2 separate regions of the Homo sapiens genome follow, and region 1 is linked to region 2. Evidence: fine-mapped expression QTL. A gene starts in region 2. The other region holds a variant in brackets. All regions are shown on one strand. Distances are from middle to middle.

Region 1 (12,391 bases), 880 kb before region 2:
GTCCTTCTCCACCTGGTCTCACCTGCTCCAGAGGCCCAGTCCCAGCCTGCGAGGGAGGCCACTCAGCACCTGCACACAACTTGGCTCATGACTTGCCCACTTCCCATTACTGAATAGGAAGTGCCTTTTCTTTCCTGTATGAAACCGAAGTTTTTCTTTGGGGAGCAAGCAGGGGGGCTATGAGCTGAGGAAGAGGACTGTGCTTGTTCTTGAATTCTCCAACTTAAGTATCGCCCCCTTTGGCCATCTTTTCCTGTTCATTAAAGAGAACAGCCTTTTTATAAATTACTATGTTGAAAGGAAAGCTCAGTCATTTGTAGGCTGCAGAAGACATACACTGTTCCTTCCGCCAGTGGCCCCTCCCGCTAGAGCAGCAAGCATAGGCCCAGTACCTGGTAGACACTTAATGGATACTTGGAAAAAGAAAGAATAAATAAAGACCTGACTTCCTCTTTTTTAGTTTAAGTATATAAAAAGGGAATAAGGAACTGAATTATTTTGGTTATCAATATGGATTCTACTGTAAGGAAATATTCTAGTTATGGTAAAAGAAGGGACACAGGACCTCCAAATTATTCCCTCTTGCTTTGGCCAGGACTCTGGAGCCAGAACCCTGTGCTTCCACTCACTGGCCGTGTGACCTTACTCAAATTATTTAACCTCCTTGGGCCTCAGTTTCCTTGATGGTAAAGTAAGCATGATCATTGCACCTACATTATAGAGTTGTTACAAAGTTTAAATGCATTCAAGGGCTTAAATGAGTGCATGGCACATAGTGGGTGCTAAGTAAGTGCTTATTACATGAACAGATGGGCCATCCAGAATGACGGCTCATGGGGAGCAGCTCAGGTGAATGTCTAACTCTTGGGCAAAGGGCCTACAGCCCTAGTTTCCTCCAGCCCCAGACTGATGACACTAGGTCTTGGGCAGTGTTTGGGGATCTGTTTTATTTCTCTTGCCTTGGTAGGAGAATTCGTTAGCTTGTCCAGAAAATGCAGGGTAGCTCTTATTGTCTGACCTCCCGAAGGACCACACATTTGGGCGGCAGGAATGGTGTCTGGTATCTGGAACTAGAGGGTAGGTACTCACAGCTCCTAAGCATTTATCATAAACAGCACTAGGCACTTTACCATGCATGTAACCCTCAAAAGTCAGCTAATAAGTTTTACATGCACTTACAAGAATTCACACCCACAATAATTCATTCTCGAAAGGTGCATCTGTCTCAGTCACCTTGGCCTGTCATAATAAAATACCATAAACTGGGTGGCTTGAACCAACAGGAATTTATTTTCTCACAGTTACGGAGGCTGGAAGTCCAAGATCAGGGAGGCTGCATGGTCAGGCTCTGGTGTCTCTTCTTGTAAGGGCCCTAACTCCAGCATGAGGTCCCCACATCATGGCCTTATCTAAACCTAATTATCTCCCAAAGGCCCCATCTCCAAATACCATCACATGGGGGTTAGGACTTCATAGATGAATTTAGGGGTCAGATGAGAACACTGAGGTTTAGAGAAGTTCAATACCTCACCTCACTTCACAGAGCACACATCTAAATCCAGGTGTACTTGACCCCTACTATCCTACTCTTTCCACAGAACGCTGCGGAAGCCAAGGACTCAGGGTTGCTGAGTTCCCATTGGAGCTAGTTGGGGCAATAGACTGCTTCCAAAAAACCATGACAACCATCCTACCCTCTATAATTCACTCACGGATATGAGACAATCTGGAATTTGGACTTGCCACTAAGTCAGCAAATCTCTGAGTCTGGTGGCATACTGAGAGGGTCAGTTCTTACTAGAAACATTATTGATTTTTAAAAGACCCTCTGCAATGAGGCTGACCTCTCTAGGCAAGTCCTGGGGTACAAGTAACTCCTTGTGAAGGGTGCAGGGCTAGAGGGAGGTAGGAAGAAAAGAGCCTAAGGGATGCCCTTCCCACATGACTAGGGAAGGGGGCCATGCCACAGGAGCCATCAGGCTGGGAGGAGTGCTCAGCTCTGAGGGTAAACAGGACAGCAGCAACTCTGAGTTCAGTGGGCACAACCAAACCACGGGCAGGCCCTTTCTATAGTCACAGTCACAGCCCAGCACTGGCCCTGCGTTGCTCTAAGCTGCCAGGCCTGTCAGAGGGGGCAGGAGGCCTTTCCTGGAATGTGGTCACCACTCCACACCGACACAGACAAAACAGGTAGGAAATCCACAGAGACCAGTGTAGAAAGGGCTTAGCAGGGCTTAGAAACTCACCCAGGAGTCGAGCTGTGTAAGGGGAAGGTGGAGGGGGGTGACCCCCTGTCAGGGGTGACTTTTGCCCTTCTATCAACTTTTATTTGGAGATAAAGTCTTTCAGGAGAGAATAGAGAAGGGATCACCTGCTTGCCCAAACAACTGCCTAAGGCATAGTAGGCAAGAGGCCTGACCCATCACAGGAGAGCAGGGTTTCTTCACTTCTGCTCAACCTCATATGGTACCAGGCTCTAATACAGAGACTAAAACATTTCTCACAGGGAGGCCCTTGACCACCTGTATCAGGAGCAGCCAGGGAGCTTTAGAGAGAGAGTCTCACTCTGTCGCCCATGCTGGAGTGCAACAGTACGATCTTGGCTCACTGCAACCTCCACCTCCTGGGTTCAAGAGATCCTCCTGCCTCAGCCTCCTGAGTAGCTAGGACTACAGGCACGTGCCACCATGCCTGGCTAATGTTTGTATTTTTAGTAGAGATGGGGTTTTGCCATGTTGGCCAGGCTGGTCTTGAACTCCTGACCTCAAGTGATCTGCCCACCTCAGCCTCCCAAAGTGCTGGGATGACAGGTGTGAGCCACTGCGCCCGGACTTTTTCTTGGAGACAGGGTCTCACTCTGTTGCCCAGGCCAGAGTGCAGTGGTGTAAGCATGGCTCACTGCAGCCTTGACTTCCTGGGCTCAGGTAATTCTCCCACCTCAGCCTCCTGAGTAGCTGAGATCACAGGCGTGTCCCACCACACTCAGCTAATTTTTTTTTTTTTTTTTAATAGAGACAGGGTTTTGCCATGTTGCCCAGTCTGGTCCGGAATCCCTGGCCTCAAGCAATCTGCCTGCCTTGGCTTCCCAAAGTGCTGGGATTATAGGCGCGAACCACCGTGCCCAGCCTCTTGCCTCTTTCTCCTACCCCAAAGCATCACTTTCTTTTGAGTCAAAAGCAAGTTATTCACTCTTCCTTTATAGGTAGAAATGTAATTTCTAAGCTCATAAAATATTTATAAGATGAGGAGTTTTTTCACTTTATATGTGAATATTAACAACTGTGGGAAAATGAATCATGCATAACTCTACTCCTTGGCTGTTCACAGCCATGTGCCCCCAGTCCAGGTGTTTGAGGTCTGGTCCTCAGGCCCTTCCTGGGCAGCCACAGTCAGGTAAAGGGATTAATTCTGCAACAGATGAGAATTCGCCCAGTCGGTTTCAGGCTTCTGCTAGATCCTGAGGAGCCAGAAAAGCTAACATGGTTCCCTGAAGCACTGGGTCTCAACACTTAATGGGCAAAAGGCTCACCTGGGGGCAAAGGAGGCATTAAAAGGCAGATTTCAAGACTCTAATGGCATTTTACAGAGGCAGTTTCTGGGCAGGGGCCAGAAACCAAAAAGGGTATTTTAAAGAGTCCCACAGCTGATTCTGCAGCAGTCCCATCCCTGGTCCTGGGCTGAGAAGCCCTGCTCAGTGTGGTGAGTGGATCTCAGGAAGGGGAAAGAGCTTCAGCAGACATGGGCATGCTACAGAGCAAATGCTGAACGTTTTGAGGTTGGAACAGAAACTGAATTTCTCTCACAGCTACGTGCATTTTCTTCCACGTGGCTTAATGTGCAGTCAGCAGCTTGGAAAAGAGTTCAAGCCTAAACACAGAGATTTTTGAGTTATTTACATGGAAGTGGTAAGTCATGGTGCAGATCCCAATCAGAAGTGAAGAGTCGTTTCTCAAGACAGGTGACACGTGATGTGGAGTGCGGGGAAGCACAGGTCAGGGGCCCGGTGACTTTGCCACTTGCTAACTTTGTGACCTGTGAAAGTCACTATATCTCACTGAGCCCGTTTCCTCATCTGTGAAATGATGAAAATAACAAAAACGTGCCCTGACATTGTTGTGAGGTAACAGATATGAAAATGCGTTTTCAACCGTAAAGCTCCATAATGAAGCACGGCCTTGTCACTCACATGCCCGCAGCCGGGCTCTGCCACCCGTCCCTTAGCTGTGTATGCCTAGCTTCTGCCCTTCTCAGAAACTGGGGTTCTTGTCTGTGCACTCAATGTCCCTCCACCATATAGGCCGAATTCCTTGAAAGCACATACCAGCCTCCATTTTTAAAACCTTGTTCTAAACTGAATGTTGGTATCCCCCAGAATGCACATGTAAAAGCCCTATCCCTTCAATGTGACTGTATTTGGAGCTAGGTCCTGTGGGGAAGTGATAAAGGTTAAATGAGGTCAGAAGGGTGGGGCCCTCATCCGGTGGAGCTGGTACCCTTACAAGAAGTAGAAGGGACCCCAGAGTGTGCTCTCTTCAGCACATGAGGACCCAGTGAGAGGGCAATCAACCACATGCCAGGAAGGGGAGCCTGCACCAGACCCTGACCCTGCCGGCATCTCGGTCTCAGACTTCCAGTTTCCAGAACTGTGAGAAAATACATGTCTGTTGTTGAAGCTCCCCAGTTTACGGGATTTTGTTATGGCAGCCTGAGCAGAATAAATGAAACTGAATGTATAGCACAGAACTGGTTACCCAGAAAGAGCTTAGGAAATGGCTCTTGAGTTGACTAGTGGGGGCGAGGGAGGCCAGGGAGTTCACAGATTGCTCCTCCAAAACATCATTTGTGTCAGACATTAGCTTCCTTCCAAAACAACAACATTTTCCACAAGTATGGTTAGTAGTAGCTAATTTTTTTTCTGGAGACAGAGTCTCACTGTGTCACCTAGGCTGGAATGCAGTGGCACGATCTCGGCCCACTGCGGCCCTCCGTCTCCTGAGTTCAAGCGATTCTCCTGCCTCAGCCTCCCGAGTAGCTGGGATTATAGGTGAATGCTACCATGCCTGGCTAATTTTCGTATTTTAGTAGAGAAAGGGGTTTCACCATGTTGGCCAGGCTGGTCTTAAACTCCTGACCTTGTGATCCACCCACCTCAGCCTCTCAAAGTGCTGGGATTACAGGCCTGAGCCACCAGGCCCACCTAATAGTGGCAAGATTAATCAATCTTGGGTTGCAGTTAATTTTCCTACACACTAGCAGGCAGAAGTGCTTGTGGGAGATGACAGACCTAAAAAGTATAGGGGTTGCCATGGACTGAATTGTGTGCCCAACAAAATTCATATGTTGAAGCTCTACTCCCAATATGCTTGTATTTGGAGATAAGACTTTGAAGAGATACAGCAGGTTACAGAGCCCATAAGGGTAGGGTCCTAATATGATAGGATTGGTGACTTTATAAAAAGAGGAGGGGGAGAGACAGACTGTCCCCTACCCCACAAGTGCTTGCACCAAGGAATAGCCATGTGAGCACACAGTGAGTAGGTGGCTGTCTGCAGGCCAGGAGGAAGAGCCCTCACCAGGAGCTGAACAGTCTGGCACCTTGATCTTGAATTTCTCAGCCTCCAGAAGCATAAGAAATAAATTTCTGACAAAGTTGCCCAATCTGTGGTATTTTGTTATGGCAATCTGAGCTAATACAAGGGGAATGAACAGGACTTGAATGACTGGAGACTGTAATTACAAATAATGTAAGAACCTGAAGAGGAAAAAAAAGGAATTAATTTTAATCATGTGGATTGCCCACAATATTTGGGATTTGGGATTTTAAACTCAAATATTTGGAATTTTAAACTCTTTGTGGTTAGTTTAGCCAAGTTTTCTTCATTTGCTGAGTATAATTTTAAAAAATTGCAATGTAATTCACAAACCATAAAATTCACCCTTTTAAAGTGTACGATTTGGTGGGTTTTAGTAATAATCTCTATTACTATGTTTTCTTTTCCTTTTCTAATAATCTGGATTACTTTTAAGACAGTTCTGAACAGAAGAGGGAATTTCCTTCATACAGCTAAGACTTTCTCATAGGGAGCCACTTGTGATAATAAAATCCTCATCACACCACAGACACAGAACTGTCTTTGGGCCGCGGGAAAGTTGGTTGTGTCTGCTGCAGCCAGTGGGCTGCGGTTCTCACCCAGCGTGGTCAGGAGCAGGCCCACTATCCCCGGGTTGGCGGCCAGCACCGGGCCCACGCCCGGGTGGATGGCAATGTTGGCCAGCACACGAGTCAGCTTGATGAGCACGTCCTCTGCCTCTGACGGCGGCCTCTGCGCCCTGTGCTGCTCGCCTCGTTGGCCCACCGGCTTCTGGGAATGCAGATCCAGCTGATGGAACGTCTGGAATAATGACAGCAGAGTTTGGATGCTCCCTTTCTCTTTGGAAAATTGTTCACGAGCCTGGTTATTTTTTGCCGTCAGGTTGCCAAGAATAAAAACAACACGGACGACTAAATCCTGCAATAAACGAAAGACAGAGTCAAAAGTGCAAAGGGGGCTGGAACACATCGTGGGGAAGAAGATAGTATTTAATTTATTCACAATTGCATTAATAGTAAAATGGAACACGTCTGGCTTCGGCTCACTTGTACAGTATTTGATTCTCAAGATCAGTGCAAAGTGACAAAGGAGATTAAAAGCACTTGGCAGCAATGAAAGAATACAAACTGATTGATGTGATCAGCAACGTCTATTACCTTCAGATCCTTCATCTTAAATTCTGGCTCGCCTTTCTTTATCTCCTTCAGAGAACAATTAGTTGAGTGGGACAGCATTACTAAAAATGAGTCATGTAAATCTAAGTTTTGACAATAGCCGGTTTCTTGAAATTCCAAATCTTTCCTTAAAATTTCGTCTCCTGCTGAAGTATGGTGTTTTTGAATTTGGGCAGGATTGACACTTGGGACTGGATAATTCTTTGTTGTGGGGAGGTGTCCTGTGCATTGTAGAGCGTTTGGCAGCACACCTGGCCTCCACGCACTAGATGACAACACCTCTCCAGATGTGACAGCCAAAATTGCCCCCTGTGGAGAAG[C/T]GCTGTGTTACGTAGCTACACTACTTTAAGGCAGTACCTACCAATTCTTACCCAGGGTGGTGGTTACATGAGTGACACCTTTATAATTACTTGCTAAATTGTGCATACCCGTTTTATGCACTTTTCTGTATATAGGCTATATTTCACAATTTTAAAATGTTTTTACAAACCCTAAGCTGGGAACATTTTAAAACTAAACAAGATACAAAAATCACTGTGTTTTTAGTTTGACAACAATGTCCACATATGAGTCCAGATCAGCCTTCCCCATGGGTGTCAATGGAGGTGACCTGGGAGGAGGAGATTTTAAAGGAATACTCATTGGAGGGCTACAACTGGCCTGGATGGTATTATATCTATATCTATATATACAGTGCCAGGCACTATGCCATTTTATAGACAAGAAACTAGGGCCTGGAGAAGCTGCCCAGGTCACATGGCTGGTGAAGGGTAAGGTCAGGATTTGATTCCAGGGTGACCCAGACTCTAGTGTCCTTTCTACACCAACATCTGCTTCCCACACAGGGTGTCGTGTACTTTTTCTCCTCCTTTGCCTTCTTGCAGAACAGTTAAAGAATTATCTCCTTTTAAAAGCAAATATGTCACCAGAAGGGACGACCATAAACGTGACTTTGTTGATCAGATCAGTAGTTAGCAGTAGCCTTAAGAAAAGGGGACAAAGGGCCAAGGGCTGGGCACGTTTTCATCGAGGAGCGCATGTCCAGGTGCGACGCCAGGGGCCCCGTGAGGGGCGTCGGGTGTGGCCAGGAAACTGGGGAGGATTGGGGGCAGAGTACAACTTTTGGATTTACCTAGGCCTTCTCTGCCAATACCAACTTGTTCCTGCTTGTTCTTGCTAAAAAATCCAAAAGTTTTCCCTGACACTCACTGGCAGAGAAGAAGCGAGGCTGCTGCTTGCACAACCGGAAACCATTTGCCAAACATTAAGGAAGGACAGCAGCTAATGCTACAGCAAAAACTGGAGATGGTCCAGGAGAGAGTTCATTTTCGGAGACATTTCAACTCACAGCATTCAACCAGCCATAGTGGTCGTCCAATTAGGAGACCCTGCTCCTGACTCCACCCCGGGAAATAGAATGTTAGTCCTCAGGTAAGTTCTTAATGCCAGGGCCTAGGAATACACACACATAACCAAGTCTGAAAGTCAGTGCTATGAAGAGCTTCTCACCTACTGAGAAGACAAGGCTAACATATGTGGGGAAACGGCAAAGACTAAAACGGCAAAGGAAGAAGCGAGACGTGAAAGGGGATTATGAGTCCCAGGTCACAGCCAGGCAGGCTGGACTCACACAGATGCTTGGCCTCTCTGTACATCCATTAACTTGTTTGCAAAATGGAGACAAAATTCTTACTGTGAGATCACATGAGATACAACAGGCAAAGCACAAATTGTACTGAGCAATGATTCGGGCATTTCTGTGAACTCTTTTCATGTCCTATCAATAAAATGCTAACTAATAGCAATAAACTCAGTGGCACAGGCCTAGTAGTCTCACCAGAGTTTTGAAAAGAGGATGCTCTGGGAACAGTGTCAGGTTCAGCAGAGTTATCATGAAAGAATCTGAGTTCAACCTTGGAAGCTGTGAGATGCAGAGATATGTGGAAGGGAGCATGGGGTTGGGCAGGCAGCAGAAGACAAGTCTCTCTCTTTTTTTAACTTTTTAGGCTCAGGGGTACATGAGCACTTTTGTTACATGGGTAATCTTGTGTCATGGGGCTTTGGTATGCAGATTATTTCGTCACCCAGGTACTAAGCTTACTATCCAATAGTTATTTTTCCTGATCCTCTTCCTTCTCCCACCCTCCACCCTCAAGTAGGTCCCAGTGTCTGTTGTCCCCTTCTTTGTGTCCATGAGTTCTCATCGTTTAGCTCCCACTTATAAGTGAGAACTTGTGGTATTTGGTTTTCTGTTCTTGCGTTAGTTTGCTAAGGATAATGGCCTCCTGCTCTATCCATGTTTCTGCAAAGGACATGATCTCACTCTTTTTTATGGCCGCATGGTATTCCATGATGTATATGTACTACATGGTCTTTATCCAATCCACCATTGATAGACATTTACGTTGATTCCATGCCTTTGCTATTGTGAATAGTGCTACAATCAACAAATGTATGCATGTGTCTTTATGATAGAATGATTTATTTATATTCCTTTGGGTATATACCCAATAATGGGATTTCTGGGTCAAATGGTTCTAAGTTTGTTTGTTTTTTTTGTTTTTGTTTTTGAGACAGAGTATTGCTCTGTCGCCCAGGCTAGAGTGTAGTGGTGCAATCTCAGCTCACAGCAACCTCCGCATCCTGTGTTCAAGTGATTCTTCTGTCTCAGCCTCCCAAGTAGCTGGGATTACAGGCATGCACCATCAAACTTGGCTAATTTTTGTACTTTTAGTAGAGACGCGGTTTCACCATGTTGGCTAGGCTGGCCTCAAACTCCTGACCTCAAGTGATCCACCCACCTCGGCCTCTCAAAGTGCTGGAATTACAGGCGTGAGCCACTGTGCCCGGCCTGTTTTTAGTTTGAAGAGGATTAGTTTGAGAGAGCATCTGGGACTATCTCCTTCCTGGGCCAGGGGTCATCTTCTCATTCTTTAATTACCTGACTGTTCCCTAAAGAAGCTATGGGATATTTATGGGCCTTAAGTCTAAAACAAGCACACACAATTTGATTATAATACTTGAATCCCATTTCACATAAAACAGAGGGTTACTTCAAGTAATGCCTGGTGGCAAAGGCCCTGCCCTGGGCTCTGAGTTGGTAGCTTCTCCTCCACCCTGATCAGACCCAACAGAGTAGCAGAAAATCAGTTTTCCAACCAGGACAGAGGGTATTTCCAAGAATTAAGCATCTTAAAGAAGAACTTCATCTGATATTTTCTAAGCTGAGGACTATAAACAGAATTTTTGTGTGAACTTTGATACATGTTTCCTGCTGAAAGACTATATGAATTCTAGTTCTGAAAATCCTAATAATTAATAACAATAACAGCACAGTAACAGCAGCAACTAACACACAGTACTTATTAGTACTCATGATGTGCCAGGCATTGTCCTAAGCATTTATATATACAAATTAACTAATTCACTAAAAATGATAACTTCCATTTCTTTAACCTGAATAAAGCTATTCACAGTATCTTTTACAATCTAAACCGCCATCTCCCTCGCACATTTGATAACAGTGATGTTAATAAGTTTTGGACTTCACCATGTTCCTGGAATTGGGCTCTCTTCTCCCATTTCCATAAAAGCATGTTAAACAAGACAGGAAAGGCATTATGAGTGATTTTAAGTGATTGCTTATTTAATTAATATTTGCATTTTGTACCCTAAATTGTTACCAGGACTAAACAATTTACCTCCTAAAATGTCATGGCATCTTCTAAGGGTGCTGGATTGTTTTTTTTCTTCCTAGGCCTTGCCGTTTCACCTCCATCTACCTGGTCTTGCTTTTCTCTGAGTCCAGCTCAGTAGGCTTCTCCAGCCCTGTCCCACCTCCAGCTATCCGTGTTGATTTGCCAGGATTTAGATCAGATCCTGGTAAAAAATAGATTTCCTTAGTGGTCATCATTCTTCAAAATTCAAATGACCTCTCCCCACTGTCACATGCAGTCTAATCTGGGAAGACTAAGTGCTGCTTTTCTTTTTCTAAAAATTCCCTCAGGCCCCTTCCTCTTCTAAAATTCTTCGATTCTGTCATCTCTGTAGGTCCTAACGTGGCCGAGATTAGTAAGCCTCCAGTGCAGAAGAAGAAGCTCTAGGCTGTAGGGCAGGAAGAGTTAACACTGTTATAATACTGCTTTTCCTGCTTCAGATGGAAAAGGAGGGGGTGGTTCCTGGCAGCCGCGGTGCCAACTGAAGCATGGCATGCGAGATCAACAAATGGGATGGCAGATTGCGCCGTCTGCAGCACCAAACTTCCAGCAACTGCTATCTCTGCTTACTGTTTTTGTCCTGTTTTTCAGGGTTAGCTAAGGCACTTTTTCTTTTCTTTTTTTCCCCTCCCTTCTTAAATATATTCTACATGGACCTAGGGATCCTGGAAGAGGCCAAAATAGAAGCCATCTCACAGGAGGTCAGCAGAGGTAGTGTTTTCTTATCTCCATGCCAGGGCTTGTCTTGACTCATCTGGAATCCTGAAGAAGGCTGAGCAAGTCAGCTTTCTAGGGCCCCTCTCCTCACCATGGGTGGCCTCTGCTCCCAAACCGTGCACTCCAAGGTCCTCCCTACTGAACCAAGGTCTGCGTTGGGCAGGATCATGGAGAGATTATCTACTGTTCCACAGCCCGAGCCATCTCAAGTCTATAAAATATTACTTAATATTCTATAAAGATTTGTAAAAATTAAACCAAGGCCAAAATCATCTATTTAGAGAGAGCACCAATTCCACAGCGGAAAAGGATTTCATCAATATGCAGCTCTCCTTTGAGGCACACATTCTCTCCTTTATTCTTAGACAATATCTGAGAATCATCTATAAATTAACACTCCATTTTTATAGCATTTTTATTAAATTTAACACAATGTTGCATATTCATATCATAACTATGTGATTTTGAAATAGCAAACTGAAGATGAATCAAGAGAGAGCTTTTTTTTTTTTTCCTAAAGAAGGCAGTCTAGTATAACCAGTTCATATCGACTTTCTAATTTTGCTTAAAACAGAATCAGCCTAGCAACAGCTACGGCCAACCAGAGCTTAGACAAACAGATACACTTAGAGGAAGAAGACTGACCTCAACAGAGCTTTCCAGTTAGAGCCTGAGGGATATTGTCATTAGTTTCGCAGATGTTATGCCCCAATGAGCAAACAAGTTACTCAATCTGAATGGGCCCCACAAGCCTGTGAATGAAATTACTTTAACTGGAATAAAACCAGGAACAGGGCACTGCTCACCAGGATGGTCTATGTCCAGTTCCAATGGTGGCAGCATTGGCAGTAGCTGTTGCATGTTACTTTCCATGGGAGAGACATTGGCCTAAAGCCAATGAAAGACATTTTTACCCCTATTTAGAGATGTTGAAACTGAGGCTTCAGGAGACTCATTAAGTAAGCCCAAAGTCAAACACTGGTGAAGAGAAGAGGCAGGACTTGAACAATCATCTCTGTACACACAGATGGTTTCCAAAACCACCTTCAGCCCAACTCCTCATTGCTAATCATCATCATCTTCCCAGTCCCCCAGCCCCAGCATCTCTGATTCCTCTCTATCTCATCCCCTCACCAAGCAGTCACCAAGTCTCCTCGACTCTGTCATCTCAAAATGTTCCCCAGCTCCCTCC
Region 2 (12,391 bases):
TGTAGGACACTGGAGACAACCCAAATACTGTGAATGCCCAAGCTGTGGTAGTGGGAAAAGAGAACTGTCCACCCCTGAACACATACCCTCACTGGGGAACCTGAAGGTCTGGATCACAGGAGAATATTCTGACCTTACCTGGAGCTGAGTCAATTTAGAGAGCAGAGCAAAATACAGGGGTAAAGGAAGCAGCAGGAAAAGCCCTGTGGGCTCTCTGGGTCCCCTGGGTACCCATTTCTGCCTTGTCTCACAGGGGTCCTTGAGGAGGGCTGCCAGAGAAAAGACCACAGGGAGAAGGAAACCTCTAGCTGAACTTTGTAACAATTCCAACTGAATGTGAAGTCTCCTGGCCAGAACCCGGTGGAGGTCATGAATCTGGAATGCAGACTTCACAGGCTGAAAGGAACAAAAACCCAGCTGGCTTTCACAGTGGGAGGCTGGTAGCCTGGGGCAAGCTCTCAGCCCTGCTCTCCCACTGCCTGGAAATTCACTTGGTGCTGTTGGGGGGGTGCACAGTGGGAGTGAGACCAGCCTTTTGGGTTGCTTGGGAGGTGGGTAAGGCCTGTGACTGCCAGCTTTCTCCCACTTCCTTGACTAACTGCATGACACAGCAGAGGCAGCCTTAATCCTACTGGGAACATAACTCCATTGACCTGGGAACCACATCCCCATTCCCCACAGAAGCCGCAGCAAGACCCACCCAAGGAGAGCCTGAGCTTAGACAGGCCTAACCCTGACCCAACCTGATGGTCTCCTTCCCTACCCACCCTGGTGGCTGAAGACAAAGGGCATATACTCTCCTGAGTTCTAGGGCTCTGCCCACCAGCTGATCCTCCCTATACTACCACAGCTGATGCTCTCTTCAAAGTGCCACCTCCTGGCAGGAGGCCAATCAGCACAAAAATAGTGCATTAAACAACCAAAACTAAGGACCCTCACAGAGTCCATTTCACCCCCCTGCCACCTCCTCCAGAGCAGGTGCTGATATCCATGGCTGAGACACCTGCAGACTGTTCACATCACAGAACCCGGTGCAGACAATCCCCAGTACCAGCCCAGAGCTTGGTAGACCTGCTGGGTGGCTAGATCCAGAAGAGAAATAACAATCACAACAGCTCAGCTCTCAGGAAGCCACATCCCTAGGAAAAGGGAGAGAGTACTTCATCAAGGGAACACCCCATGGGACAAAAGAATTTGAACAGCAGCCTTGAGCCCTAGACCTTCCCTCTGACACAGCCTACCTAACTGAGAAGGAACCAGAAAAACAATTCTGGTAATATGATAAAACAAGGTTCTTTAACACCCACAAAAAAATCACACTAGCTCACCAGCAATGGATCCAAACCAAGAAGAAATCCCTGATTTACCTGAAAAAGAAATCAGAAGGTCAGTTATTAAGCTAAAATCAAGGAGGCACCAGAGAAAAGCAAAGTCCAATTTAAGGAAATAAAAAATGATACAAGAAATGAGGGGAGAAATCGTCAGTGAAATAGCATAAATACAAAACAATCAAAACTTCAGGAAACAATGGATGCAAAAATTGTAGAAATGCAAAATGTTCTGGAAAGTCTCAGCAATAGAATTGACAAGCAGAAGAAAGAACTTCAGAGCTCAAAGACAAGGTTTTTTAATTAATCCATATGAAAAAGACAAAGAAAGAATAAGAAAATATGCCCCAGTATGCTGATTGTTTTTTACTTTATTTCCAAATTCGAGGTAATTTTTCTTAACAATTTCTCATGAAAACATTTTTTTTGAAAGTCTCACAGAGTCTTGATTAACATTTTGAATTTACATGAGGAATGTGAGGTAGCATCGTAGGTCAATTTCTCATCTTCTTTTCTGGTTTTCCAGACGTTTCCCTTTGATTGCTAGTTTTTGCTGTTACAATATCGTAGACAAGAGATGCAAAGGATCTGAATTTAGGCAATAGCATTACTTTTTTTTTTTTTAAATCAGGTTTACATTCAAGACAAGACCTTTCCTTATTCTTACACTATGGGGCTATTGTATCATGATGAATATAATCTTCTCTCATAATCATTAATCTCATCAGCAATGTACATAACTACCATCTAATTCTCAGACCCTATTCAAATTTTGCTAGTTGTCCCAGTAATGTCCTGTCAGGTGCAGTTCCTCAATCTTTCCTTGACTTTTGTAGCTGTAACACTTTTGAAGATTATAGTCGAGATATTTTATATAATGAACTTTAATTTGATTTGTCTGACACTTCCCTCATGATTAGAATCAGATTATGCATCTTTGGCAGGAATATAACAGAACTGACACTGTATTCTTCTAATTGCAGCCTATCAGATGCACACAACTTGTATATGTTCCATTATGATGATGTTCATGTTGATCATTTGATTAACATAGGACTGGACAAGGTTTTCCACTGTAAATTTACTCCTTTTTCCCCATTTGTAATTAATAAGTATTTGGTGGGGAGAATCTATGAAAATATGTAAATGTATTAGTCCTTATCAATCTATTATTTAAATTGATCACTATGAGCTTGTGGTTTTATGTAATGGGTTATAGTTTGTTAACCATCATTATTTCAATGCTGAGAGTGACTCAGATTTGACCAGCGGGAGTCCATTCAAGCTGTTTCTGTATGCCCTTCACATGTTTCCAACATTATTCTTTGAGCACTTCCTTACTTTCTGGCACAAGATGATCCAGTCTCAATTTGTGCTTTTTCTGAATCAGCCATTTCTCCAAGGATCCTTGGTTCCTTTTAGTGGAGAATGATACTTCAAATCCAAGATCTGGGCATTATGCATGCTCATTATCACTGGGGTACCTTTGCTACTAAGTGTTCTAAGTGGACAAAGCCAGAGGAAGTACACCCACACAAGTACATATATATGTATACATATACCATATATTCATATATGTACATACACATATAAAATGTATACACATAAATTTACATCTGTATTTATTTCTATACTATATATAGTTGGCCCTCTGTATGCATGGGTTCTGCATCTTGGGATTCGACCAACTGCAGGTCTAAAATATTTGAGGGCTGGGTACAGCGGCTCATACTGCTAATCCCAGGACTTTGGGAGGCTGAAGTGGGAGGATCACTGGAGCCCAGGTGTCTGAGACCAGTCTGGGCAACACAGGAAGATCCCATCTCTACAAAAAAAGAGAAAAATAAAACCACAATAAAAAGTAACATGCCACTGAAAGTACATTAAAAATGGTAACTTTTATGTTATGTATATTTTACCATAATTTTTAAAAAAGTAGTATCTCCTAGTAGAAAAAAAGTAACAATAAAAAATAATATAAATTAAAAACCCAACATAGTATAACCACTATTTACATAGCATGTATATTGTATTAGGTACTATAAGTAATCTAGATATGATTTAAAAGTATAAAGAGGATGCTTTAATAGCATGTAAGAAAAAAGAAAAAGAGTATACGGAAGGAAATGTGTTAGGTTATATGCAAATACTATGGTGTTTTATGTAAGGGACTTGAGGATCTGAAGATTTTGGCATCTGTGGGGGGTCCTGAAACCATTCCCCTGCTGGTATCAAGGGATGACTATGTATTTTAAGCTATGAATTTGCACTATTTCTAATTTTAATCCAACATTAGAGTTCATTTCTCTCTTTTCATATTTGTAACTTTCTTCTCTGACAGTCTGAAACTGAACTCCAATTATTCTTAATATATTTACTGATTCCATCAATCCTTCTGAATGTAAGCAACCTCCCAGTCACTGCTGCCCAATCCTCTGCATGGAGACCCTTCTTATCCACTGAGAACCCAATACTCTGCATCAGGCTGATGCTGCCACCCTCCCTCACACCACTGTCCTCTTCAGCTTACCTATGCTCTGACACCTCTCTCTGGGCCTCTGACACCCCATTCCTACCAAGCACCGATGCCTATCTTGCTCTACTTGACCTTTAAGATTGAATTGTTCCGGGAATGGAAAGGAAAGGAAGAGGGAAAGTGTCTGTAATTTCCTTAAGTTTTTTTTTTTTTTTTTGAGCAGGAGCACAGTGGTGTGATCCTGGCTTACTGCAACCTCTGCCTCCCAGGTTCAAGAGATTCTCCTGCCTCAGTCTCCTGAGTAGCTGGGATTATAGGCATGCATCACCATGCCCGGCTAATTTTTGTATTTTTAGTAGAGACGGGGTTTCACCATGTTGGCCAGGCTGGTGTCGAACTCCTGACTTCAGGTGATCCGCCCGCCTCGGCCTCCCAAAGTGCTGGGATTACAGGCATGAGTCACCGTGCCCGGCCCCTTAACATGCTTTTTGAAGCCATCCTTTTACCACTACAAACAATATTGTAATGAATAAGTGTCTATGACAAGGTTGTGAACTTGCTGCATCAAAGAGCTTGTGCATTTGCAAGGTTGTTGGTTCTGCACATTGATTTCCATAGAAGTTAACAATTTACACATCCACCTGCAACACAGGATGGTGCTTGAAAGAATTTAAAAGAAAGATAATTCTAATACATAGAAAGACCTAAGAGTTACATGATGACTTTTGCAAAACTTAAGACAACTTATTTTCTCTTTTGGAAATACGTTTATTGTTACACAAATCAAATTTCCTACTATTCAGTTTCTTAGTAACAAAAATGAAACAAAATTTAGCTATCCCAAGCAAATTTAGGAACATAAAACAATAACCAAACAGACGGGGTAAAAAGTAACTATAAGAACCCCCAGGCTGGGCACAGCAGCCTGTGCCTGTAGTCCAATTGTTTGGCAGGCCGAGGCAGGAGGATCCCTTGAACCTAGGAGTTCGAGGCCATCCTGGGCAGTCTAGCGAGACTATGTCTCAAAACCAAACCAAACAAAATACACAACAACAACAAAAAAGTTTTTGAAGAACCCTCAGAAACATAAATTAGGACCCTAAGCTAAGTAGACTTTAGTGCAACAGCTCTGCAATTTACAAGGCAAAAATTACAACCCTGAAAAGCAGGATGACACAAAGCCCGGAAATAATTTTCTACCAACCTGGTTGGTCAGATACTTGTCAGAAAACTGTTTTCCAGGTTATGAGCTTAAATTCTTTTTACAGACTGGCAACGGTATCAGGACGCTTTTTAGAGTGTCCCCTGCTATTGCCTCGGGCATGTCAGAAACTGGATAGGAGTTTCAAGTTGAGCAGTTTGTCCAGGATTTCCTGGGCTTTAGCACTGAACGCGCTGCGTCCCTGGTACCCCTTCAGTTCCAAGCAAACCTGCTTGTTGGCCACTGTAGGACCAGACTTACGTCAAGTACAGTTGCCACTACACAGATGTGGCTACTTACATTTAAGTTAAATACTTTTTACTTTTGAGATGGAGTCTCACTTTGTCGTGCAGGCTGGGGTACAGTGGCGCGATCTCGGCTCACTGCAGCCTCGACCTCCTGGCTCAAGCCATCCTCCCCGCTCAACCTAGGACTACAGGCTTGCGCCACCACGCCCAGCGGCTAATTTTTGTATTTTTAGTAGATACGGGGTTTCGCCATGTTGGCGAGGCTGGTCTCCAACTCCTGGCTTCAAGCGATCTGCCTGCCTCGGCCTCCCAAAGTGCTGGGATTACAGGCGTGAGCCACCGCGCCGGCCCTAAATTAAATTAAAAATTCAGTTCCTCAGCCGGCTCAACACCACACATGTGGCCAGTGGCTGCCTTAATAACGCAGATGTAGAATATTTCCCTCATCTCACAGAGTTCTGACAACGCTGAGGCAGACAGTTGAGAGTTTTTTTAAAAACAAAAACAAAAAGCTTGGAAACCGCTAGTCTCCACCACCTATAATAACCAACGGGCATTATTACTCTCTCCAAATGGGATGAGGAAAAAACTACGCTAAGGAACACCATGCAGAAAATCTGCCGAGGCACAGGCCAGCGGGGTTTCTCTGCGAACGCAGCCGACGGCCATTTCCACAGCGGAGGCCGTCGTCGGTCCAGCGAGGTAAGAAACTTGTAGGACGCCCGGAACTCCCAGAGGGTTGGGCGTTCAAGGGTCAGGACCCCCGAGATGCAATTGTCCAAAGCGGTGGGTGCTCGTGGTCACCGGCTGGCGAGCCTCGGCTACGGATACCCCAATGCACCACTCCGCCCCGCCCCGCGCCTAACGCCGGCTGGAGAGCGCGCGGCCGCAGGGTAGGCGCCCTCCCGCACGCGCGAAGGCCTGCGGCCCGGAGGCAGCCGGCAGCCAATGGGGCGGGGCGCCGCGCGCAGGGGGCGGGGCCGTGACGCGCCCTCCTCGTGACCCGGCTCTCGGCCTGCGCTCGCGGAAACCGGAAGCGGCGGCTGTCCGCGGTGCCGGCTGGGGGCGGAGAGGCGGCGGTGGGCTCCCTGGGGTGTGTGAGCCCGGTGATGGAGCCGGGCCCGACAGCCGCGCAGCGGAGGTGTTCGTTGCCGCCGTGGCTGCCGCTGGGGCTGCTGCTGTGGTCGGGGCTGGCCCTGGGCGCGCTCCCCTTCGGCAGCAGTCCGCACAGGGTCTTCCACGACCTCCTGTCGGAGCAGCAGTTGCTGGAGGTGGAGGACTTGTCCCTGTCCCTCCTGCAGGGTGGAGGGCTGGGGCCTCTGTCGCTGCCCCCGGACCTGCCGGATCTGGATCCTGAGTGCCGGGAGCTCCTGCTGGACTTCGCCAACAGCAGCGCAGAGCTGACAGGGTGTCTGGTGCGCAGCGCCCGGCCCGTGCGCCTCTGTCAGACCTGCTACCCCCTCTTCCAACAGGTCGTCAGCAAGATGGACAACATCAGCCGAGCCGCGGGGGTGGGTACAGGACCACGTCCGGGACTGTGGCTCAGGAGAGTTGGGAAAGGAGGAGGGTGTAATGATGGTCAGCGCTGGGGGCCTCAGTTTCCCCAACAGTAAGAAAAAGGGGTTGGACTGAGTCTGTAGAGTTGGGTCATCAGAAAAAGGGGGTGGCATTATGGGGCTTGGGATTTGGGTTTTTGCTTCCAAGAATGCTGTTGGACATCTTTGGTTCATATAGGTGTGATTGGTTTTCTTGGGGGTCCTGATTCCCCAACCCTCTTGCTCTTCCTCCACCCACTCCACCACGGCTTCTTCTCATCTTCACCTGGAGTTGCCAGGAAGGATCCTTTTCTGAAACAAGTGGGGTGGAGACACTGGTAGTGGTTAGAAATTTGAGCTTTGTAGCCAGAAATGTTCATGTCCACCAACTTCTAACTATGTAACCTTGGATTAATTATCTTCTCAGAACCTTAGTTTCCTCCTCTATAAAGTGGAAAGAACATCTGCCTAATGCGGCTGTTGGAAGAATTAAAAGAGATATTGCCTGTGACTTCATCTTAGTGATGTGAACAGTCTGGAGCTAGCTAGCGGCCAGGACTCCAGTTCCACTCTGCTTATTAGCGGTATACTATGGGCAAGTTACTTACATTCTCTGTGCCTGTTTACTAATCTGTAAAATGGGGATAAAAGGAGGTTTTAGAAAACAACACATAGTAATACCTCTAAGTAAATGGGAGGTAAATTTTTAAGAAATTGTAAGACTGCTCTTCATTCTTCATACCTTAAGGGTTCTCTAGGTGTGTGGTAGCTGCTGTGAGGCACTTAATTTTAAAAAGAAAAACAGACAATTCCTGCTCCTAAGTACTTTATAAAGTTTAGACTAGGAAAAGATTAGAGTGTCAGGGTTGGTGGGAGTCACGAGGTGTGGGCCGGATATGCTTGGTAAAGGAAAAACATGAGGAATAACATTGGGATTGGAGAATGAGAAAGTTCCTCTTGTATTACGGGGACAGCAAGTAGTCTCATGAAAATGTGGTTGGAATTATTCCATAAATTTAAACTTGTCTAAACTTGTTTATAGTTGCACTAAATATAAATTTGTACCTAGTTGGATCCTGCTTTAAGTCAGCCTGTTATTTAAAATAAATCTGTCATGGCTGTGTGCGGTGGCTCATGCCTGTAATCCCAGCACTTTGGGAGGCTGAGGCAGGGGGATCACCTGAGGTCAGGAGTTGGAGACTAGCGTGGCCAACATGGTGAAACCCCCGTCTCTACTAAAAATACAAAAATTATCCGGGCGTGGTGGCACGTGCCTGTAGTCCCAGCTGCTCTGGAAGCTGAGGCAGAAGAATTGCGGTACACGTCTGTAGTTCCAGCTACTCGGGAAGCTGAGGCAGAAGAATCACTTGAGCCTGGAAGGCCAAGGTTGGGGTGAGCCAAGATTGCACTACTGCACTCCTTCCTGGGCAACAGAGTGAGACTCCATCTCACAATAAATAAATAAATAAAAATAAAATAAAAATCTGTCATTTTACATAACTGGGGAATTTATTTGCATTAAATAAATTCTGTGGTCAATCTCTCTGTAAAGAGCATGTTTTTTTTTTTTTCTTTTTTCTTTTTTTTCTGAGACAAGGTCTTGCTCTGTTGCCCAGGCTGGATGGAGTTCAGTGGTGTCATCTCGGCTCACTGCAATCTCCGCCTCCTGGGTTCAAGTGATTCTCCTGCCTCAGCTTCCTGAGTAGCTGGAACTACAGATGTGCACTGCCACACCTAACTAATTATTGTATTTTTAGTAGAGACAGGTTTCACCATGTTGACCAGGCTGTTCTCGAACTCCTGGCCTCAAGTAATCCACCCACCTCAGCCTCCCAAAGATTTGGGATTACAGGTGTGAGCCACCACACCTGGCCAAGGACATATTTTCGAGGTAAATAAATTCAGGCTTACATGCGGTATTTTCCAGGCACACTTCCATTGGGTATAGCAAGGAATATATATCTTACTATCACTTTAAAATAAAGTACCCAAGACATGTCCCTGTCAACTACAGCAGGATACGATATAGCATCATATTCAGTGTTGAGTGGTTAAGATGAGTTGTTTTAGGGTTCCATTTACTCTAAAGAACAAGGGCTATTGTGGGCAGAATGGCCAGGGATCATGATGCAAAGTTTGGGTCTTTGAAGGCAGCAAATGCTTTTCTCATGTGTGTAGGTACTGTGGAATTAAAGAGAGGCTAAAAATAGCACCTCAAACTCTAGGGTGCAGTATTATGGGCATCACCCAATCTGCATGTGAATTTCCATATGAATTCCCCACTACCCAAAGGAGGCTTCCCAGTGGGGGAGTTGTAGAAACCCCCTTCCTTTCCCTCAGATTCTACCAGCAACCTGGGTACCCAGCTCAACTCACCCTGATGTGAAAGGAAGTGGATAAACAGGTGAAAAGAGGCAGGGAAACTTTTTTTGTATTTTCTCTCCAACTCATCCTAGGCCTTGGTCTCGGCTCGCCTTATTTCCCCAGTAGAGCTGGATATGATTCATTAGCTCAAAAGTGTGACATCTACAGTTCTGAGGTACTTTATAGATTTAAAAGGCTATATGGACTGGTTTGGGAGTTGAACCATCATGTATAATAATGAACTTATGAGGCCAGGTGTGGTGGCTCGTGTCTGTAATCCCAGCACTTTGGGAGGCCAAGGCAGGCAGATCACCTGAGGCCAGGAGTTCGAGACCAGCCTGGCCAACATGGTGAAACCCTGCCTCTACTAAAAATACAAAAAAAAAAAAAAAAAAAAAAAATTAGCCGGGTGTGGTGGTGCGCAGCTACTCAGGAGGCTGAGGCAGGAGAATTGCTTGAACCCGGGAGGTGGAGGTTGCAGTGAGCCAAGATAGTGCCACCACTCTCCAACCTGGGGGACAGAGTAAGACTCCGTTGCAAAAAAAAACCAAAACAAAACAAAACAAAAACCTATGGAAAAATGTGTCATGAGTGAACTTGAAGGAATTAGTTGTCTCTTGGGGAGGTTTATTTATCCAGTGTAGTATATTTTCTTTTCTTTTTCTTTTTTTTTTGAGACAGAGTCTTGCTCTGTTGCCCAGGCTGGAGTGCAGTGGCATAATCTCAGCTCACTGCAAGCTCCACCTCCCAGGTTCATGCCATTCTCCTGCCTTAGCCTCCCAAGCAGCTGGGACTACAGGCGCCCGCCACCACGCCCGGCTGATTTTTTATATTTTTAGTAAAGACGGGGTTTCACCGTGTTAGCCAGGATGGTCTCAATCTCCTGACCTCGTGATCTGCACACCTCGACCTCCCAAAGTGCTGGGATTACAGGTGTGAGCCACCACACCCAGCCCTTTTTTTTTTTTTTTGAGACGGAGTTTCCCTCTTGTTACCCAGGCTGGAGTGCAATGGCGGGATCTCGGCTCACTGCAACCTTCGCCTCCCAGGTTCAAGCGATTCTCCTGCCTCAGCCTCCCAAGTAGCTGGGATTACAGGCGCCCACCACCACGCCTGGCTAATTTTTGTATTTTTAGTAGAGACAGGGTTTCACTATGTTGGCCAGGCTGGTCTCAAACTCCTGACCTCAGGTGGTCCACCCGGCTCGGCCTCCCAGAGTGCTGGGATTACAGGCGTGAGCCACCACGCCCAGCCTATCCAGTGTAATGTATTTTGTTTGACTCAGACTCAGTCTTTTATTGAAATCAGTTTTTAGCAAGCACCTACTATTCTTGAATATTGGGCTGGTAAAAGGATAAGAAGGAAAAGAAGGGTAAGATTCAGGCCTCAAACTATCAGTATAGTTAGGGGAAATAAAATACCTTATATGGGGAAATAGGAAAATATCAGTGAGTGTTATAAATTGTACCATAGCAATTTAGAACAAAAGAGTGAAAGGAATGCCAAGTTAAAGGAGGGAACAGAGCCAGATGCAGTGGCTCATGCCTGTAATCCCAGCACTTTGGGAAGCCGAGGCAGGTGGATCGCTTGAGGCCAGGAGTTTGAGACCAGCCTAGCCAACATGGCAAAACCCCGTCTCTACTAAAAATATAAAAAATTAGCCAGGAGTAGTGGCATGTGCCTGTAATCCCAGCTACTCAGGAGGCTGAGGTGGGAGAATCACTTGAGCCTGGGAGGCTGAGGTTTCAGTGAACCAAGTTTGCACCACTGCACTCCAGCCTGGGTGACAGAGCAAGACTCCATCTCAAAAAAAGAAAAAAAAAATGACGGAACAGAGCAAGGCTGGTTCATCAGGGGAAACCTACAAGCTGAATCTCAAGGCATTCTTTCTACCCTTCTTTAGTGTGAATGGACATGGATTGATTGAGAGAGGAGAGGAGTATAATAAGGAGAAAAAAAGAATCAAAGCCAGAAACTAGTAAGCTATTTATGTGGTACAGCAATATAATTAGTTTAACTATAATAGAATTCCCTGATAAGAATCCTAGGTTCTTGTCACTTCCTTTTAGAATTTCTGGGAGAGGGATCGCATATAGTTTCATTATCTCAAGGTGAAAAATACAGTGATTTCTGAAACCTGAATGATAGAACTGAGGGATTCCCTCTTCCTTAGAGTCATACTTTCTCCTTTTAGTTTAAACTGATAGGGACATAGTTTCATTGTGATTCAGCATTATCGGAATGGTCCTGAGGATGCTTTTGCCCCCTCAGATTCTGAATTGGTAGGCTCTGTCCTATTCTACTTGGTTTGTTTAAAATTTAGATAGTGTTTAAAATTTAGATCTATAGATCCATCCATCTACCTATCTATCTCTATCTATCTATGTATCTGTGTATCTTTGTGAAGTGCTAGTCATTTGGGTTATGTATTTGGTGAGTATTCAATATACTTTTACTGTAGATTATTAAATAATGAATTCTGAGGACTATAGGGAGAAAGCCAGAACATAGTGTAATAATCTGTGTCTTTCATTAGAGATCAGAAAATGTAATATTTCTTCTGCATTCATTCAAAAAAATTATTGAGTACCTATTATGTACAGGTTGTGGTAGCTACTAGGGATATAGCATGAATGAGCAGAGCTTGTAGTCTGAAGACAGACATTAAGCATCTCATTATACAAATAATTATTTAATTCATGTGTGATAAGTGTTGCTGATTAAAAAACCCAGATGCTACCAATGCATATGACAAGAGTGCTGATCTTGAGTATGACTGGGGGGTAGGTAGAATGGTCAGTGATTAAAGCAGACACCTACAATTTGAGAGAACACAGGCAGGGGAGGGAAGGTATACATGTAAAGAAATAGCAGGCATGAAGACTGAGATGGGAAGGAGTTTGTGGTGTATCTGAGGTCTAGAACACAGCACAGTGAGCAAGAAGGAAACCCGTGGTCTGAGCCTAAGGAAGTACACAGGTGCCAGGTCATGTGGGCCTTGTAGGGTATGTTAAGGATTTTAGACTTTGATTTTAAAGCAGTATGACGTTAGTGAAAGGTTTAATTCTGTGGAATGACATAATCAGATTTGTACTTTAAAAGGCTATGCTGGCTATGTGACAGAAAATGGAGAGGGTAGGGGCTGGGGAGGGTAGGGGAAGAAGATATGTGGGGAGATGAATTAGGAGACTGTTGCAGTGGTGTGAGAGACAGTGGTGTCTAGGCTATGTGGGGGCCAT

The links.
Region 1: its variant is fine-mapped to the expression of OSTM1 in B cells (Fairfax 2012, PIP 0.92).

The regions. Positions count from the first base shown.
Region 1 is chr6:108,947,151-108,959,541 of GRCh38, reverse strand. ARMC2 (armadillo repeat containing 2) reads right to left here. Exons shown (of 18, transcript NM_032131.6): 13 at 6,191-6,509. Among named protein-coding and RNA genes, the nearest start is that of ARMC2-AS1, 29 kb to the right of the region's middle. RefSeq lists an enhancer at 7,817-8,318. The variant C/T (reference allele first, on the strand shown) is at 7,087.
Region 2 is chr6:108,068,623-108,081,013 of GRCh38, reverse strand. OSTM1 (osteoclastogenesis associated transmembrane protein 1) reads left to right here and starts at 6,273. Exons shown (of 6, transcript NM_014028.4): 1 at 6,273-6,764. The coding sequence starts at 6,363. RefSeq lists an enhancer at 518-1,187 and a silencer at 6,063-6,502.